2 separate regions of the Homo sapiens genome follow, and region 1 is linked to region 2. Evidence: fine-mapped expression QTL. A gene starts in region 2. The other region holds a variant in brackets. All regions are shown on one strand. Distances are between the middles of the regions. Region 1 overlaps CCDC158 (coiled-coil domain containing 158). Region 2 holds the start of STBD1 (starch binding domain 1).

The links. PIP is the estimated chance that this variant, and not a neighbour inherited with it, causes the effect. A credible set is the group of variants that fine-mapping cannot tell apart.
Region 1: its variant is the best candidate, but not a certain one, in a credible set for the expression of STBD1 in whole blood (TOPMed, PIP 0.85).

Annotation. Positions count from the first base shown.
Region 1 is chr4:76,401,859-76,411,383 of GRCh38, forward strand. It overlaps CCDC158 (coiled-coil domain containing 158), which reads right to left. Exons shown (of 25, transcript NM_001394954.1): 3 at 1,280-1,422. The coding sequence starts at 1,349. LOC124900891 (small nucleolar RNA SNORD50) reads left to right here and starts at 218; the gene lies at 218-288. The variant TC/T (reference allele first, on the strand shown) is at 4,697.
Region 2 is chr4:76,300,832-76,310,140 of GRCh38, forward strand. It overlaps STBD1 (starch binding domain 1), which reads left to right and starts at 5,902. Exons shown (of 2, transcript NM_003943.5): 1 at 5,902-6,158; 2 at 8,313-9,309. The coding sequence starts at 5,939. The coding sequence ends at 9,169. It overlaps FAM47E-STBD1 (FAM47E-STBD1 readthrough), which reads left to right. Exons shown (of 7, transcript NM_001242939.2): 7 at 8,313-9,309. The coding sequence ends at 8,342. RefSeq lists an enhancer at 579-723 and a cis regulatory region at 646-656.

The DNA of each region.
Region 1 (9,525 bases), 100 kb after region 2:
AGGATGTGGCTATGTAGGAAGTGAGCAAGTGGAGGTGGGCAGGGGAGATGGGTGTGGTAAGGTGGAGATGACAATGGCATTTTAGGATATATGAGCATAGTGAGAAGCAGAAATGTTTATACAATAATGGTGCTGAAAGAAACGTTTTTAAGCAGACCAGTAAAACAACAGATCAGTAACTGAGAATAACCTCTGCATGCACTAAAAGAATGAGTTACATCTGTGATTATCCTATTCTGAACCTGAATTTCTACTAGAAAAAACTTATATGAATCTGGCTTCTGAGATAGACCATTAAATTGAAAAGAAAAAAAGAATGAGGAGAGAGGGGCAAGGAAGGGAAAGTGCAGGTCATTTGCCTGATTGCCCTTGAATGCATTCTCTGTCCTTCCCCTTCTCTGTTGAGTGTTGTAGGTTCCCTTTCTAGTTCTCTTCCACATAGGTTTGCAATGGGAAGAGCTCGCAGAAGAGCTGGAGGCAGCAGAAGAGGGGAAGCCAAGGTCATGGTCCTCTCACTGTCTCAGATGAGGATCTGGTAGTTGGTGGTGGCTTCAGCTCCTTCCAGGCAGCCCTCTCCGTGGTTCTACCTCTAGCTTCCATGCCCTTGCAACAGCTGCTTTTCTCATTGTCCTTCTAGCCAAAGGCATGGTTGGTAGCAGCTTCTTGCAGTTGGTAATTTCTGTGTTGTTTCATCCCTTTAGGCTTTGCAGCTCTTTCAACACCTATGTAACCATTCCTTGTATTAAATTCCAACTATTTATTCCATCTGTGTCTGTTTTCCTGACATAGGAATCACCTTTGATTGAAATAATTTGGATCAGAGGTGATGGGGGCCTGAACCAGAACACCAGTAATGGAAATGGAGAGGGAAAAAATGGATTCAAGAGACATTTCAAAGGTAAAATCAGCAGGGCCTCAGTACCTGACTGGATGTAGCAGCAGGTGAGGAAAAAGAATGAAATGATACAAAATTCTGACTTAGGGCAGACCAAGGAAGGCAGGCTAGGAAGACACAGGAGGAAGAGAAGGCATTAGGGAGGCATGGGGCATGTTGAGGCTGAAGTACTTCAATGTAGAAACATTTTTAAAACAAAAAATTCCTTAAAAGACAAAGGAATCTCTTCTTCAAAAAGTAGAATTATAAACAATATGGTAGACATTCATGATCATGGTCTGTAACCCACATGGTTAAAAATAAAACATACTAGAAACAGCAGCTTGAATGAATATCATGGTTAATTCTATTTTTTCCCCATTTTGTTTTATAAACAGCACATACCTCCATTAGATGTGACACCACTACTTGATAAAAGATCTTCATTATTTGATTCCCAAGCTTTTGATTCCATATTAAATATTGCTACTTCTTATTAGAGATCTTGAAGTATGAATGGTTCCCTCTTTGGTTCTTTTGGTTCCTGTCTATGAAAGACAGAGATTCAATCTTTATTAACAAGGTACTATGTGAAAAAAGTTCATAGAAGAACAGGAACTGACTTTTTAACATTGAAATTTAGTAATAATTTCTTCTCCAGAAAAATAATTATTTATACAGAAATACATTATATTACATAAAATTAATAAGTGAATACAATCTTATGGTGAAAATTATTGATTTTAATAGCCAAGTACATTATTAAAGACAACCTGAAAATAAGAAACTAATTATTGTAGAGGTTTCTCATAAGGTTACACCATCAAATAATGGAAGAAAATATCTCCTTAGCAAAAACCACAAATCATCAAAATGGAAGTCACTAATAAAAGTTGAAGAACTTCTCTGATGTCAAATAGTGCTCACAATTTTCATTTAAGCTAAGAGGAGAATTCTAAATGTGGAGAACAATGGTGGTGGTCTGATTTCAAATCTTCCTCACATCTTCCCAAATAACCATAAAATCAACCAGGCACTCCACACCCCTAGCATCACTGGAAGACAGAGAGTACCACAACCTTCAAATAATCTGCAAGTACAGGGAAATCTTTTTCCAAAACAATTCCCGCAGCCCACCTACCAACACTACAAGCCTAGGGGTACAGAAAATGGGAGGGAAGAGGTAAGCAGAAGACAGAAAAAGTACAGATAAATTCATCCCCAGAGGTGAAAAAGTAAAGGCCAAAATATTAAGCACAGGTTGGAACTTGATAGTCCATAGCCCTGACAATGGGGTAAGGGTTTGAAGAAGTAGCGGCCTCAGAGAAGCAGGGTTTCTTGGGGTGAATGAGATACAGAGAGAAAAAATGGTCTCCCCTAGGGACATGGCAGTCAAGGGAAAGAAGGAAATGAGAGAGGAACACCAAGGAACCAGCAGAAGCAAAACACAAGCTAGATATACCACCCTTCTTCCATCCTTCCCACCCAACACCACTACCCATAAAGAAAGTGCATGGCAGAAGGCAGTCTCAAAGTAGGACCCTTGTCCACAAAATGAATAGGAATAGATAAAAGCAGACTATATCTACTGCAAAATGTCAGAAAACATGAATACAATCTTTTCTGCTGATGAAAAGTCTCTCCCACAAACAACAAACATGAAGCCAAAGAAAACTGAAACATAATACTCCAAACTGAACCCAGTAGGCTCAAACAAGAATTTAGGGTATGAAAAATCACCCCTGAATTAGAAATGTAAAGCCAAAGAATAAAAATGGACAAGAAACAAAACAAGCAAACAAACAAACAAACAGGAAGAGATGAAATGAGAGTTGATTAAAGTTAGGAAAGACAGAGAAATAAAAAACAAAACTATATCAGAAATAAAGACTGAATCACAAAGTACACAAGCGATGACAGGTTGTAATAAAAATTTAATAAAGGCACTGAAGAAAATCAGGAAAGCCACCATGAGAATAAAAAATAAAATAAAGAAGTAAAAAGGGTGAGAGCTGGGTGTGGTGGCTCATGCCTGTAATCCCAGCACTTAGAGATGCAGAAGCAGGAGGATAGCTTGAACCCCGGAGTTCAAGAACTGCCTGGGCAACAGGGCAAGACCCCATTCTCCACAAAAAGGAAGAAAAGAAGACAAAAAAAAGGAGTGAGAGAGGACTGAAATTGAAGACAGGTAAATGAGGTTGAATATAATACAACTGGGTTTCCTAAAGGAAAAACATGAAACAGAACTACTATTTAAAACTATAATCCAAGAAAATTTTCTAGAAATAAAGACCCGAATCTACACATTTTCCATATCAGGGAAAAGTGATCAAGAATGATAAACTCTGAGACATACACTAGTAATACAATATTAAGACTTTAAAGATAATGAAAAAATCCTCAGTGTGTCCAGGCAAAAAAGATGAAATAATTTACAAAGGCAAGAAGATTAGACTGGCACCAGGTTATTAAAAAACAATACACACAGTAAGGCAAGAGTGTAGTAGTACTTTCAAGAAGGGAAAGAAAGGACAAACCAAGGATATTACAGCCAGCCAAGATGTCCCTCAAAAGGTTTGAAGCCACAAAAAAGCAGTTTTGACTGTACCGGGACACTGTGCCGTGTGCCTCTGCTGAGGATTCTACTAGAGAAGATGAGCCTCATTCACCCAGAAGACCACTGTAAAATGTGGCAGTGTCTACAACTGGTGAAGATCTTCAAGGTTTTGTGTAGGTTCTAAATTTTTAAAAGTAAATTTGGAAAAAAAGGATAAAGACAAACATTTAAAAAACAAGACCGGGAAAACTGCAAGGGGACTGATGGTGAATATTTAAATACTCAATTATAGAGTTGAGAAAAACAAAGGTGAGGTAATGGCACTGAATAGCGATATAAATATTATGTGCATGACAAAGGAGAATAAATGTAACTAAAAACGGAAGGAAGAGGGAGAAAAGTGGAAAGTAAAAGACCATTGACTTAAAATGGAATAGACAGCAGTCAAAGGACACCACTTAAAACTGAGAAAAAGTAAAAGGTCAAGTAAGAAAAAGCAGGTTTAAAAGTGCACTATAAAAAGCATAAGTACAAAAGTAACCACTAGAGTAAAAATACAAACCTTCTTAAATGACAAAGAATTTTAAATGGAAACATAAAGAAGAAACACCAAATAAAGAAACTCTAGCAAATATAACACATTCAGTAATTACACCCACAAGATAATAGAATGATGTGAAAAAAATACCACAGAATTTAGACCAAACAGTCATGTTGATTAATGTAAGAGGACTTAACTTGCCTATTGGAAGAAAAGGATTTTCAAATTGACTTTAAAAAAAACAACCCTGCTATGTACAAAAAAGTATGCCTAAAAACACACGCAGAGATTCAAAAAGACTAAAAATAAAAGGATGAACAAAAATTGCCAGGCAAATGAAAACAACAAGAAAGCACGGGTTAAAATCCTAATACCAGACTAAGTTGTCTTCAAGCCAGAGAGCATTAACTAAAACAAATTGCAGTGCACTTGAAGTTAAAAGCCACATTGCACAATAAAGATATGTACCATATAACACAGCAATCACTTGGATAAAGCATAAATCCACAGAAGATACGGTAAGAACTGCAAACGCAGTAATAATGGGAGGCTTTAACGGACAATTAGTATGAGACAGGCCAAGTGGACAAAAAATAAGTAGAGATATAAAAGATTTAGAAGAACTAATCACTAAGGTAGACCTTTTGGCTATATATTAAACACTATACTTTGATAACAGACAATATACTTTCCTCTCCAAGGGCACATGAAACATTCACAAAAA[TC/T]AGTCATATTCTAGGGCACAAATCAGTAGGTTCCATAAAGTAGGTTTCCATAAAGTAGAAATGTTACAAACAACACCTTCTGGTCACAGTATAATAAAGCTAAAAATTAAAATCAAAATCTCCAAATTAAAAAGGTCTTTCTACCTGGAAATTAAAAGGCCTTCTATTAAACAACTCTTGTGTGATAAGGGAAACACAAGCTGAAATTAAATAATTTCTGAAAAATAATAATGAAAATAGTACATATCAATCTGTGACATACATTAAAATAGTAAAAAGATGAAAATTCCCAGCCCTGGACACCTACATCAATAAAAATGAAATAATAAAAGTAAATTCATTAAGTGTCTAACACAAAAACATAGAAAAATGGGTGAACTAAAAGAAAGCACAAGTAGGAAATAATAAATGCAAAAGCAGAAATTAAGATAGAAAAAAGAAAAACAATGAGTCAAATTCATGAATCAAAATCTTCATTCTCTAAAAAACAAAACAAAATAGATGTGGGTGAGGACCACTAAAGTGATGGGAAGAGGAAGATCATGTAACACGCTGCTTATCATTTTTACATTAATTCATGATTGTAAGCATAAAGTCTCTAAAAATTTAAAAAAACCCTGAGCTTAACAGTTTTTATTAAACGGAATTCATTTTTATTTCACTCACATTTTCTTCCTTTTGATTACTGAGATGCCACCTGTCAAAACTACAATTAACGATAGAACATATCTACCTTAATATGCTTCGTGCTATCGTTTTTTAGGAAGTAAGTAGTAGGTAGGGAGATATTCCATAAAGAATTATAACAAATAGAATGTTAGTCAAGATTGCTAGGCAATTTAAATGTTCTAAATAGAAGAGACTGCTACTTGAGGAAAAAAAAACCTTGCCTATTGAAAGAAAAGGATTTTCAAATTGGCTTATAAAAAACGACTCTATGCTGTGTACAAGAAGGATGCCTTCTCATTTAAACGAGTTTCATTGTGAATGTTTGTTGTATAACTTTACTGATACACTAACATGATACATTTTGGGATTCTTCAGGATAATGAATGACACTAAGAAAGTTCAAATTGCTGAGTAATGTTATCATGAATTAGAGATCAATCAGAAGCATAAAGGAATGAGTAGGACAGATATAGAACCACAACCAAATACTGGCAAATCATATAGTAATTCACTATCAAAGACTTTAGTATTAAGCAGGAAACAGAATCTAAGATCAAGGTAAGCAGAATTGAAAATAGGAGTTAGAGAGTAGAGAAAAGAAGAAAGAGGAAGGTTTGGCTTTAGAATATTCTGATGTGGAAACCACACTTGTCTACTTCGACGTAAGATGATGAATGCTTGCGTTATTCATCATAACTCACTATGAATGCTTGTGTTATTCATAACAGGCTGTTGGAAAGCAGCAGTCCTTCAAAGGGGAATTTTTTTCTTAGAAAATTAGTAGTTTACAGAAGACAGCATAGGTTTATTCACTTAAACAAGAGTTGTTTTTTTAAATTTTTAATTAAAAAATTTTATTATTATTATTTTTTACTGCTCCTTGTGCAGCAGGGCTACCCCATAAGCAGTGTGCCCAGAGTAGTCAGGAGTTTCACTTCTTTATATACATATATGTATATATATATATATTTTTTTATTATACTTTAAGTTCTAGGGTACATGTGCACAACGTGCAGGTTTGTTACATATGTACACATGTGCTATGTTGGTGAGCTGCACCCATTAACTTGTCATTTACATTAGGTATATCTCCTAATGCTATCCCTCCCCGCTCCCCCCACCCCACAACAGGCCCTGGTGTGTGATGTTCCCCTTCCTGTGTTCATGTGTTCTCATTGTTCAATTCCCACCTATGAGTGAGAACATGCGGTGTTTGGTTTTTTGTCCTTGTGATAGTTTGCTGAGAATGATGGTTTCCAGCTTCATCCACGTCCCTACAAAGGGCATGAACTCATCATTTTTTATGGCTGCACAGTATTCCATGGCGTATATGTGCCACATTTTCTTAATCCAGTCTATCATTGTTGGACATTTGGGTTGGTTCCAAGTCTTTGCTATTGTGAATAGTGCCGCAATAAAAACACGTGTTCATGTGTCTTTATAGCCGCATGATTTATAATCCTTTGCATATATACCCAGTAATGGGATGGCTGGGTCAAATGGTATTTCTAGATCTAGATCTCTGAGGAATTGCCACATTGTCTTCCACAATGGCTGAACTAGTTTACAGTCCCACCAACAGTGTAAAAGTGTTCCTATTTCTCCACATCCTCTCCAGCACCTGTTGTTTCCTGACTTTTTAATGATCGCCATTCTAACTGGTGTGAGATGGTATCTCATTGTGGTTTTGATTTGCATTTCTGACGGCCAGTGATGATGAGCATTTTTTCACGTGTCTTTTGGCTGCATAAATGTCTTCTTTTGAGAAGTGTCTGTTCATATCCTTTGCCCACTTTTTGATGGGGTTTCAACAAGAATTTTAAAACAACTGTTTATTTGTAAAGAGGATGCTTAGTATCTCTGTTGCCAATGCTGGTAGTTATTTTGTGTGTGTATTTTAGAGTAATGAAAATCTGCATTTAAATAATATTTGTAATTCATTTTCACTATTTTAGACTGACCATATATCCTGAATTTGGTCAAGTCATCAGTGTTTCTCTACTTTTGTGACACTATAGGAATTGAAATATTTTTCCTATTTTCAGGCATAAAGCTTATGAAATGATTAAAGATTTCTAGAAAAAGCAAGGTTTTTTGCTTCAATAAATCATAAAATTGTTAAAAAAAAAACTCTGCACTTGGTTGAATTGGGGATCATAACATGAACTTACATGTGTTTATTTTAAATCTCTGAGTAAAATACAGAGGTGAGATCTTGGCCTCTTCTGACATGCCGAAGGTCTATTATGAACAGTTCTGCCTGATTTAAAATTATGAACAGGTTCACATTAAAAGGAGCCTTACATTTTTAAAAAGTAGTATCTAGGCCGGGAGCAGTGGCTTACACCTGTAATCCCAGCACTGTGGGAGGCTGAGGCAGGCGGATCATGCGGTCAGGAGATAGAGACCATCCTGGCTAACATGGTGAAACCTCGTCTCTACTAAAAATACAAAAAATTAGCCAGGTGTGGTGGCGGGCGCCTGTATTCCCAGCTATTCGGGAGGCTGAGGCAGGAGAATGGCGTGAACCCGGGAGGTGGAGCTTGCAGTGAGCGGAGATCACGCCACTGCACTCCAGCCTGGGTGACAGAGCGAGACTGTCTCAAAAAATAAATAAATAAAAATAAAAATAAAAAGTAATATCTGTGTATCTATTCTACTCTAGTTATTTGATTGGAATGTTGCCAAAAAAAAAAAGGTCTAAGAAACCACAGACCACAAAGAGGGAACTTTTGGAGGAAAATTCCCTAAAGCCTTAGGCTTTGTTATATAGCTGAGATAAAGCGTTTAAAAGTACCTCCTGGGTTCTGACTCCTGCTCCTTGGAGTCGAAAGGCCCTGGTGGATGTGCACTTATACTTTTCCTAGTATGAATAATCCTCACCTTGATTTCTTTTTGTATGGCTACTACTTAAGGTGGACCTCTCCTGTGACTATCATAGAATGAATAACTGATTTAGAATCCCTTTTTTTTGTTTTGAGACAGAGTCTTGCTCTGTCGTCCAGGCTGGAGTGCAGTGGCACAATCTTGGCTCACTGCAACCTCCACCTCCCATGTTCAAGCAATCCTCCCACCTCAGCCTCCTGAGTAGCTGGGATTACAGGCATGTGGCACCTTGCCCAACTAATTTTTGTATTTTTAGTAGAGATGGGGTTTCACCATGTTGGCCAGGCTGGTCTTGAACTCCTGGCCTCAAGTGATCCACCCACCTCAGCCTCCCAAAGTGCTGGGATTACAGGCGTGAACCACCAGGCCTGGCCCAAGTTCTATTTTGATTGCGTACAGATGACTTATGATGTATGTTCTATTTAGATTCCTGGATTCTTCAACTGACTCAAGCTCCTAGGTTGATGAACCACCCTACCTTCCACAGAAACCTGAGACTGGGGATCTTACAGAACTGATCTACATTCTTCTAGAACCAGTCTGCAGGTATGTTTTCCTTGGGAAATTCTGAGGTACCTCGGGACTGATTCAAAGAAACATACTGGGCTGGTACAATCTCAGAAACACAATAAGGAGAACCATTCATGTTGAACAGTATTGTACTACCTGAATTGCTGTTAGCTGCTTATTAACTTCACATGCTCTCAGTGTCTGTTTTCTCAATCACACTCTTTCAAGTCTCTGGATGTTGTAATCCTAGCTCTGTGATCTACTAGCTGTGCCACCTTGAGAACAATATTTAACCTCTCTATGACTATACGAGGGAGATAAAAAGTATACAGCTTAAAAGGTAAAAGAGTGTATACCTCAAAAGAATAAGAGTTAACTGAGATAACTCACGTGCAGGCCTTCCTACATAGTAACTGCGGCCTTCCTACATAGTAACTGCCTCAACACATACAAGGTACCAGATAATTGGACAGCAATAACATGAATAACAATACTATCTGGCAGGGCACAGTGGCTCACGCCTGTAATCTCAACACTTTGGGAAGCAAAGGTGGGCGGATCACTTGAGCCCAGGATTTAGAGACCAGCCTGGTCAACAGAGTGAGACTCTGTCTTTACAAAAAATGAAAAAATTAGCCGGGCATGGTGGTACTTGCCTGTAGTCCCAGCTACGTGGAAGGGTGAGGTGGGAGGATCCCTTGAGCCCAAGAGTTCAAGGCTGTAATCAGCCATGATCACCACTGCACTCCAGCCTGGGTGACAG
Region 2 (9,309 bases):
TGGCTATGTGCATACTTAGCTTCACAACACTCTTCCAGAGTGTTTGTACCTGTTGGCTCTCCCAACAGCAGCACCACACAACTTCTTTCTAATATTTGTCTCTCTGATGGATGTAAAATGGCATATCATTGTTTTAATTTGCATTTTTCTGACTATCAATGAGTTTAAGCATTTTTTGTGTCTAATTTTATTCAGCCAAAAATTATTGTGCCTATTATGTTCCAGTCATTGTTCTGGGCACTGAGGAAAGAGCGTCCCTCGTCCATTTTTATATTGGATCTTGCGTCTTTTTCTTGCCAATTTGTACGAGTTCATTGTAGAGCTAGGTATTAATCTCTTATCAGTTTTAGACAACACAAATATCTTCCCCCAGTTTGGCTCTATCTGGTAACTGTTTATGGCACCCTTCATTGACCAGATAGCATCATTTTAATGAAGTCAAAATGTTTTTGGCCTCCTATGTTAGGCAATGTCACATTGCCAGTTTCCTGGATTTTGTTCTATTCATAGTTTTACCATTTACATTTAGGACTTTATTTCATCTGGAGTTCAGCATTTATGTGGTACAAAGTAGTAATCCAGCTTTATTTTTCTGTAGATAGTGAGCTAGTTGTCTAACACAGATCTCCCTTTTCTAAAGTTTTAATGACTTAGCATGACTGATGTCAGCCTTGAGTCTATTCTGGAACTAAGATGAGTCAGAGGTTTGCAAACAGTTTCAGTTAGAAAATGTCTCTGTGAAACCTGAAACTGGGCAGCTCCAATGTGACTGCTTTGCAGAGAGGTTGTACTTGTGGTTAATGTTATGTGGCTCCCCAGGAGCCAGAGGTCTGACAGCAATGGACAGGTGCTGAGGGTGATAAGTGCATTCCCCTAATGGAGAGAGGGGTTGCAGAGTTATTACAGATCAAGAACAAGTCTGAGAGTCACCACAAACACTGAAACACAACCATAAGGGTTCTCTAGTATAACACATCCAAATTTGCACACTCACTTCTAAAATCTATGCTTTGAAATTTGAACATAGTTTAAGAATCATCAGACTTCAGTGTAGCTAGGGTTTCAGAGCAGGTCCTGGGGATCAGAACACCGGGTTCAAATCCTAGCTCAGTCACTCATTAACTGTATGACCTTGACCAGATTACTTCCCTCCAAGCATTCCATTTATAAGGATGAGATAATCTTTATAAAGCACTTAGCCTGGTGCCTGCATATTTTAGTTATTCAATAAACAAAAACAATAAAAAGAAGGCCTATTAGATGATAGCCTTGACATTCCAGGGAATAGAAAGATGTCCAAGCTGTGACCAGCAAGGGATTTATGATCTAAACTAGGGATGAGACAAACCTCAAAGATACTGATACCATAAGAGAAAACCTGGTGTGATCGAAAGGATCCCATTAGGAATAACAAATCCCAAGGGTTCTACGCTCTCTGTGCCAGCAACAAAAGGACAAGACCAAATCTCTTTCTTATTATACCCCACTGTGGAGAGGCAACAGGACTATGCAGAGACACCTCTTCTACTGGCCATGTCTTCTCCCAGTGGTCATTATCTACTTTCTCTGCTTTTCTTAAAACTCCAGCCAGATTTTCTTTCTCCCACTCAGCTGATAACCTCATTGACTACTTCCTTTGTGGCACAAAATGTCTCTTATTTTCATTCTTTTCTTTTTTTCATGCCCTTCTAATCTCTTTCCTTCATTGAAGGCCAATTCTTCCACTGGCATTCCTGACCCATCTCCCTCTTGTGCCTTATGAAAGTCCAATGAAAAAATATTTCCTCTGCTTCTCATGTCTTCAAGCTCAGTCTCCACTGGCTCTTTCCTGCTCCCAATCGTGCTTAAATCTCTCTTGGTTTATAGGAACTGCCCTGAGTCCTGGTCTATTTCTTTTCTTTTTCTTTTTGGGGGGGGGGGGTTGGTGGAAGGTGGGGGGGGGGGGTCTCCCTGTGTTGCCCAGGTTGGTCTCGAACTCCTGTCCTCAAGAGATCCTCCCACCTCGGCCTCCCAAAGTGCTGGGTATCCTGTTCTATTCTTAAGCAACCCTTCAATTTCTCTCCAACCTATTGCCTCCACGTTTCTCAAGAGAGAGATAACTCAATGCTGGACTTCTTATCCTTTCACAACATTTATATCTTAGCATTCTGAAATCCAACTTCCACCCCCACAAACACTCCAGAGCTACTGATGGCCTCTTATGTGCCAATTGCAACCATTTTCCCTTCAGTTCTCTATCAACTTCAGTTCTGCAAAGCAATGCCTCCATTCCCTCTCCTGGCCACCTTCTTGAACTGCTTTTCTTATCTGATTTTGGTTCTCCTTCTTCTCTGGCTCTTCCTTCCCACAGTCTTTAGTCTCTCTGACTTTGCAAACAGAGTTGCTTTTCATTGTTCTGTCCTCATCCCTCTAAGCCAGGATTGAGCAATCTTTTCTTGCATAAGTTTAAAGGAAAAAATATATAATAAAATAAACTTTAAAATATCCATCTATATCTATTCATACTTTATTAAATAGAATAATATCAATTAGAAAACGGGTTCTACATTATGGCCCATAAAATATAATCTCAAGACAGAATTGCAATATAAATAGCAACATGGAGGCAACTTCCCAATCTTTCTTCTTGCAATTGTGTCAAGGGCTCATCCATCCTTCATTTCTCTTTATAACATTAATCTTTACTATGGATTTAATTACCACATCTCTATGCAGAATTTCCAACATCTCCAGCCTTGATCCTCTTAAACTAAAGAAACCGAGTTCCAACTTCCTGCTCGTGCCTCCAATTTAACACGTCCCAGCAGAACTCATCATCTTCCTCCTTTGTCCGCACAACCGTTCTTGCCTTTTTTGCTCCCTGACAACACTATCTTCCTAGGCACTCACAGTTTTCTATATGGAGGCAAACATGATTGTTTTGCAAGTGTATAGCGATAAGCATGGGTATCATCAGTGCGGCAAGAATGTTTTTAGGATATGTGGCTATGAACCTTTAATATAAACATATGACTATGATTGGAGCATTTTTTAAAAGAGCAGCAACACAGAAATTAATGAGCCAGCACTTAAGTTTGGAAAAGCCAAAAGGAAGGCCAAATAATGTTCTTTAAAAATGTTGCATTAGCTTCTTGGGATTCCCAAAGAAAAAAGTAAATTAAAAAAAATGTTGCATGATCAATATGATACAATGTAAAAATAATTCTGATGGGTTGAGAAAATAATTTTTGGTATTATTTTAAATAAATGAATGGACATTTATGACAGCAATAAATATTAAGAGCCTTTTAGGTATTATAAGTGAATAGTGGGGCTTACATCTGAAGGATTTTACAGATTCTCTGGGATTTTTATCCCTTAGACAGGAGTCCCCAGACCTTGGTCTGAGGCCTGTTAGGAAGCAGGCTGCACAGTAAGGAGGTGAGTGGTTGGCAAGTGAACATTACAGCCTGAGCTGCACCTCCTATCAGATCAGTAGCGGCATTAGACTCTCATAGGAGCACAAACCCTATGTGAACCGCACATGCAAGGGATCTTATATTTTTATCAGATTTTTTGAGACAGTCTCCCTCTGTCACCCAGGCTGGAGTGCAGTGGCATGATCATGGCTCACTGCAGCCTTCACCTCCCAGGCTTAAGTGATCCTCAGCCTCCTGAGTAGCTGGGACTATAGGCGCCACTGCCTTGCCCAGCTCATTTTTGTATTTTTCCATAGAGACAGGGTTTTGCTATGCTGCCCAGGCTGAAAGAATCTTATTTTATACAGTGACATTCATTCTCTTAAAAATATAGCTTTACGGTTACTTTTTATTATACATAAAATGAATTTCAAGGAACGGTAATATCCACATGGGCTAAAAATGCATATGGAATCTACGTAAGAAAAATGCCAATAATGCTCTAGGGTGAAATTACCTGGGGCTTTTAATTCATTCATTCAACCTGTACTTCTAAGCGCTCACTCCGGAGAGGTTACAGGTGCTAAGAATTCAGCAGAGAACAAAGGACAACCATCCCCGCTGTCATTTACACTCTGAAGGGAGGAAAGAGAAATTAAACCACAGACACACAGATTATAGAGTGTATTAGAAATGACGCCCTAAGTGCTAATGAGAACAATGGAGCAGGGGAAGGATATAGGGAGTAGGATTGTAATTAAAACTGGGATTGTCAAGGAAGGGCTGGGCAGGGGAGGGGGTAGTGGGGATGCAGATGACACTTGTGCCAAGACCTAAAGGGGATGAGAGAGAGAGGATGTCTGCAGGAAGGATGACTCTAGGCAAGGAAGCCAGTGTGGTTGAAGGTGGCAAGATGGAGATGAGTGCACAGTGGTCATGGGGAACAGATCCTGTAGGGTCTTAAAGGTTCTTCCGTGTGATCTGGAGCAACTGGAGGGTCTTGAGCAGAGAACTGGGGTGTTTTAACAGGATCACGCTGACTGGTGGTTTGAAAGTGGCCTGTGGGAGCTTGCTGTGTTTTGTTTTGCAGCAATGGGAAGGATGTGGTTGCCACTTCCTGAGATGGGGAAGGTGGGGAGAGTAGTAGGTTTGGGGAGTTAGGTGGGGAGTTCAGGTCTGGATGAGTTGGGTTTGAGATGTCTATTAGACATCCACGAGGAGATGCCCAGTAGGCAGTCTTCGCCCTCACCTCTCCTCTACCTCCTCTCTTATGATTACAGAAGTTGTGGCCTGCATCAAGGCGTGCATCAGCCTTCCAGTAACCCCACTGGCAGAACCTTGCACCCCGTTAAGGGCTACTGTCCATTCGGAGCAAGGGGCACATTAGATAATTTGCCCTACCAGAGAGAGCAATTATAGCAATTACTCCAAGGCAGGTGTTTGGTATCTGTGGCCTTTAGCAGTTGAATGTCGGAGTCCAAGGGAAAGGTGTGAGCTGCAGACATAGACGTGGGGATCATCAGCTTGAAGCTGTTGTGCAAAGTCATCAGATCAGCAGAGGAAAGGATTTACAAAGAAATATATATAACACCGCACAGGGTTGTTGTCTTGTGAGGATTAAATTAAATACACACTTAAAACATCCGGAATACAGACAGTGCTTAATAAAGAGCTGCTGTTTTTATTAACAAACTTATCTGTAGGAGCTCGTCCATGGACAACATCCAGTTCATACAGATGCGTGCGCATTTCGCAGCAGCCATACACGCCCAAAGAGGACGAGACTGGATGTGATTGAGCTGACTGGCATCTTTAGATGGATGGTCCTCAGTCCAGTCCTTCCATTTTACAGGCGAGGAGGCGGAAGCTTGGGGAGGCTAAGCGCGCTGAGCTGGCGGCGGAGCGGAGCTTCCACTAGGGCTCCCAGTTTCCCCGCACCGCGCCCGCCGTCCTCCGGGCCACCCATCCCACCCGAACGCGCCACCGCTCTAGCCCGCGCTCCAGCCCGCGCGTCACCGACGCCCGCGGCCTCTCCCACCTCTAAGTTCCAGGAAGCTCTCGGCCTCTAGCTGACCGCGTTGCTGCTGAGCTTCCCTGGGGAGAAGGCGCCGAGGTGCCCGGTGCGGGCCGAGGCAGGGCTGGGCCTCGCGGGCAGCAGGCGGAAGAAGGAAGGGCGGTGGGGCAGGTCCCGGCTGCGCGGGGCAGTTGTGCGCACTTGGGTTCTTCACGCGGGACACACGTGGAACGCCGACCCCTGCGCCCCTGGCCGCTGGCAACTGGCAAGGCCGGGAACAGAAAGTGTAGGGACAGAAGAGCGCTGGAGTCTTCCCCGGGAGGGAGCCCGGGGCTGCAGCCCAGGGGCGGGGAGCGGGGCGGGGCTGGGAAAGTTGAGTACTGGTCGCTCAGGGCCGGGCTCCGCCGGAGTGCCCGGCGCAGAAACCGTAAAAGGCTGGAGCGGGCGGGGTAGGTGTGGCTCTGTGTGCGTGACCTGAGCCCCGGTCCCAGTCCCTGTAGTCTCCTGCGGCCGCGGCCTCTCAGCCATGGGCGCCGTCTGGTCCGCCCTGCTGGTTGGAGGGGGTCTGGCCGGAGCACTTTTCGTTTGGCTGCTGCGGGGCGGCCCTGGCGACACCGGGAAGGACGGGGATGCGGAGCAGGAGAAAGACGCCCCTCTTGGGGGAGCTGCGATTCCGGGAGGCCATCAGAGTGGCAGCAGCGGACTGAGCCCTGGACCTTCCGGGCAGGAGCTGGTCACCAAACCAGGTATTCTTCCCCCCGTGACTCCAGGGCACATCTGCCAGAGCTTTGAGGTTCATCGAGGAAGGGAGCAAAGAGACAAACCCACCTGGAGCTTTCCTAGGGGCCCATTCCTGCGGACGGGCTCTCCTAAGGGGACTGGGCCATCCCCACGCCCCTCGGTTTCCCAGGCTGGTTGGTACGCGCAGGCAGGTTTCTTGTCTGGTCCTCCAAGGGCCGCGCCCTTGCCGAGTCCCTCAGCGCCCGCGCCTGAGGACTTGGTCCTGCCCCTCCGGCGGGGATGAGCTCCTCCACTTGGCGGCGCTTGGTGCAGTGCGGGCGGCTGCAGTGGCGGCGCCCCTTCCCGGCCTTTGGAAAGGGGGGCTTAGGTTTAGGGGATCCTACAAGCCTCTTCGATCTCTGCCCAAGCAGGGACATTTTCTAAGTCCCAATCCGGGTAGTCTGACATCCTCCCATCGCACAGCCCATGAAGAGCTGGGTTTGGGAACACCCGAACTGCGGGCGCCTCCTGCTATCTGGATGCTTCTTTAGGAAGGCAAAGTTCAGGTTGGACTCTGGCCATGAAGGCTGTGGCTGAGGCCCTGGGGATGTGCCTTGGTCACCCCTTTCAGCACTGTCGGCAGTCCCCTCCACGCTGCCCCAGAATAGGGCCGGATAGTCATCCCTAGGAAGGGACTACTTAAATAGGGGACCCAACCCTGATGAGTAGAATTGACATCTGGGTTTAAATTTCTGTATTTTAGGGACCGTTTGCTAAGCAGAGAGCGAACACTGGCAGAAAAGCTTACCGTCCAGTGCCCTCCCTTGGCAAGCTGCCCATGCCTGGACAGAAGCCTAATGGTGAAAATGACATCTGTGAACTTTATTTTTAGCCCAGTGGTGTTCATGTGCAGCCATATGAAAATCTGCCCGTGTGCCTTTACTGTGATTGGTCTGGGATGCCTAGACAGTTCACTTATCTTTTTTCTGAAGACCAATCTCATGCTTTAGGTTGAAAAGTTGGGAATCCAGAATAATATTTGTTCATTCTCACTTCCAACTCCCACCATCACCGAGGCGGGCAAATCACAAGGTCAGGAGTTCGAGACCAGCCTGGCCAATATGGTGAAACCCTGTCTCTACTAAAAGTACAAAAATTAGCTGGGCGTGGTAGTAGGCGCCGGTAGTCCCAGCTACTTGGGAGGCTAAAGCAGGAGAATCGCTTGAACCCGGGAGACAGAGGTTGCAGTGAACCGAAATCGTACCACTGCACTCACTCCAGCCTGGGTGACAGAGCGAGACTCCATCTCAAAAAAAAAAAAAAAAAAGGGATAAAATGAAACAAGACTGTTGTCCCCATACCACCACCACCCCCACACCACATAAAACCACAGCTGTGCTGATTGTATGTATGATTTGGAGATTTCAATCTTGTAGGGAGCTATTTGGACTACCAATGGCATGGCCAAGAAGGAAACTGCATTTTTAGAGGACTTGGATTTTGTATTTTTAAGAACGTTTTTTAAAAAATGCTTACAATGGAAGGGGATACAAAACACCGTTTTGTTGGGGAGGTTCCTAACGCATATGGGATTGGCAAGGAGAAACCAGCCCCTTCCCCCAGTTCTCCCTCCACTCCTGCCCAGGGAAGCACTACTGTTCTCCGTATCTCCCCAAGGTGACAGCTCCTGCTGATCTGCCCGCAGGTCTGCGAGAGCCAATCCCTGCCCTGCATGCCTCCCCTGGGAGAACAAGTGTACTCTTCTGGTTTGTAACGTAGCCACGCAGCCCTTTGCCCCACAGCCTGGACAACATTCTTTGATGATAGGAGCCAAGCAACTTAACTTGGCTGCATGCCAGTATGGCCTGGACTGTGGAGACTGGGGACCATGGGGGGGTTACACGTCTGCCTCTACAGCTTACCACTTCATTTACACTTGTGCTGGCACACTGATACTCCTGGATGTCCCTTTTGTTGTCAGATATACATGTGTATTCTTAGAGCACAGTGTTGGGAGCATACTGGTTAATTAAGTAGTACTTGATTTTAATAGAGGGGGACTTTGTGAATTGCAGATTGATTAGTAGTAAAGCTTTCAGTAACTAAATCTATTTTCTCAGCCTGACTTTTTTCTTAAATGAACTACCTGACTCTATTACATTTTTCCTTTGATTTCTTAGAGCATCTTCAAGAAAGCAATGGACATTTGATTTCTAAGACCAAAGACCTTGGTAAACTGCAAGCAGCATCATGGAGATTGCAGAATCCTTCCAGGGAAGTCTGTGACAATTCAAGAGAACATGTTCCTTCTGGACAGTTTCCAGACACAGAAGCTCCAGCTACCTCTGAGACCAGTAACTCTAGGAGTTACTCTGAAGTTTCAAGAAATGAAAGCCTTGAATCTCCTATGGGAGAATGGGGATTCCAAAAAGGACAAGAGATATCTGCTAAAGCAGCTACATGTTTTGCAGAGAAGTTGCCTTCTAGCAACCTGCTCAAGAACAGAGCTAAAGAAGAAATGAGCCTCTCTGATTTGAACAGTCAGGACCGGGTTGACCACGAGGAGTGGGAAATGGTGCCTAGGCACTCATCTTGGGGGGATGTTGGTGTGGGTGGCAGTCTTAAGGCTCCAGTGTTAAACCTAAACCAGGGAATGGACAATGGAAGAAGCACTTTGGTGGAAGCAAGAGGTCAGCAAGTGCATGGGAAAATGGAAAGGGTAGCAGTGATGCCTGCAGGGTCTCAGCAAGTTAGTGTCAGGTTCCAGGTCCATTATGTCACAAGCACTGATGTGCAATTCATTGCAGTAACTGGAGACCATGAGTGTCTTGGGAGATGGAACACTTACATCCCACTCCACTATAACAAGGATGGGTTCTGGTCTCATTCCATTTTCCTGCCTGCAGATACAGTGGTGGAGTGGAAGTTTGTGTTGGTAGAGAATGGGGGAGTTACCCGCTGGGAAGAATGCAGCAATAGATTCCTAGAAACTGGCCATGAGGATAAAGTGGTTCACGCATGGTGGGGGATTCACTGATTCAGTTTGCAAAGTAATGGAGAAGCTGTAGAACAATGTGGAAGAGGCTGAGGTTGTGGAACACACTGAATAAAATAAAGGCAGTGTGACTCCAAATTCAGCCATCTGAATTGTTTAAATTTGCTAGTGGATTTTGTCTA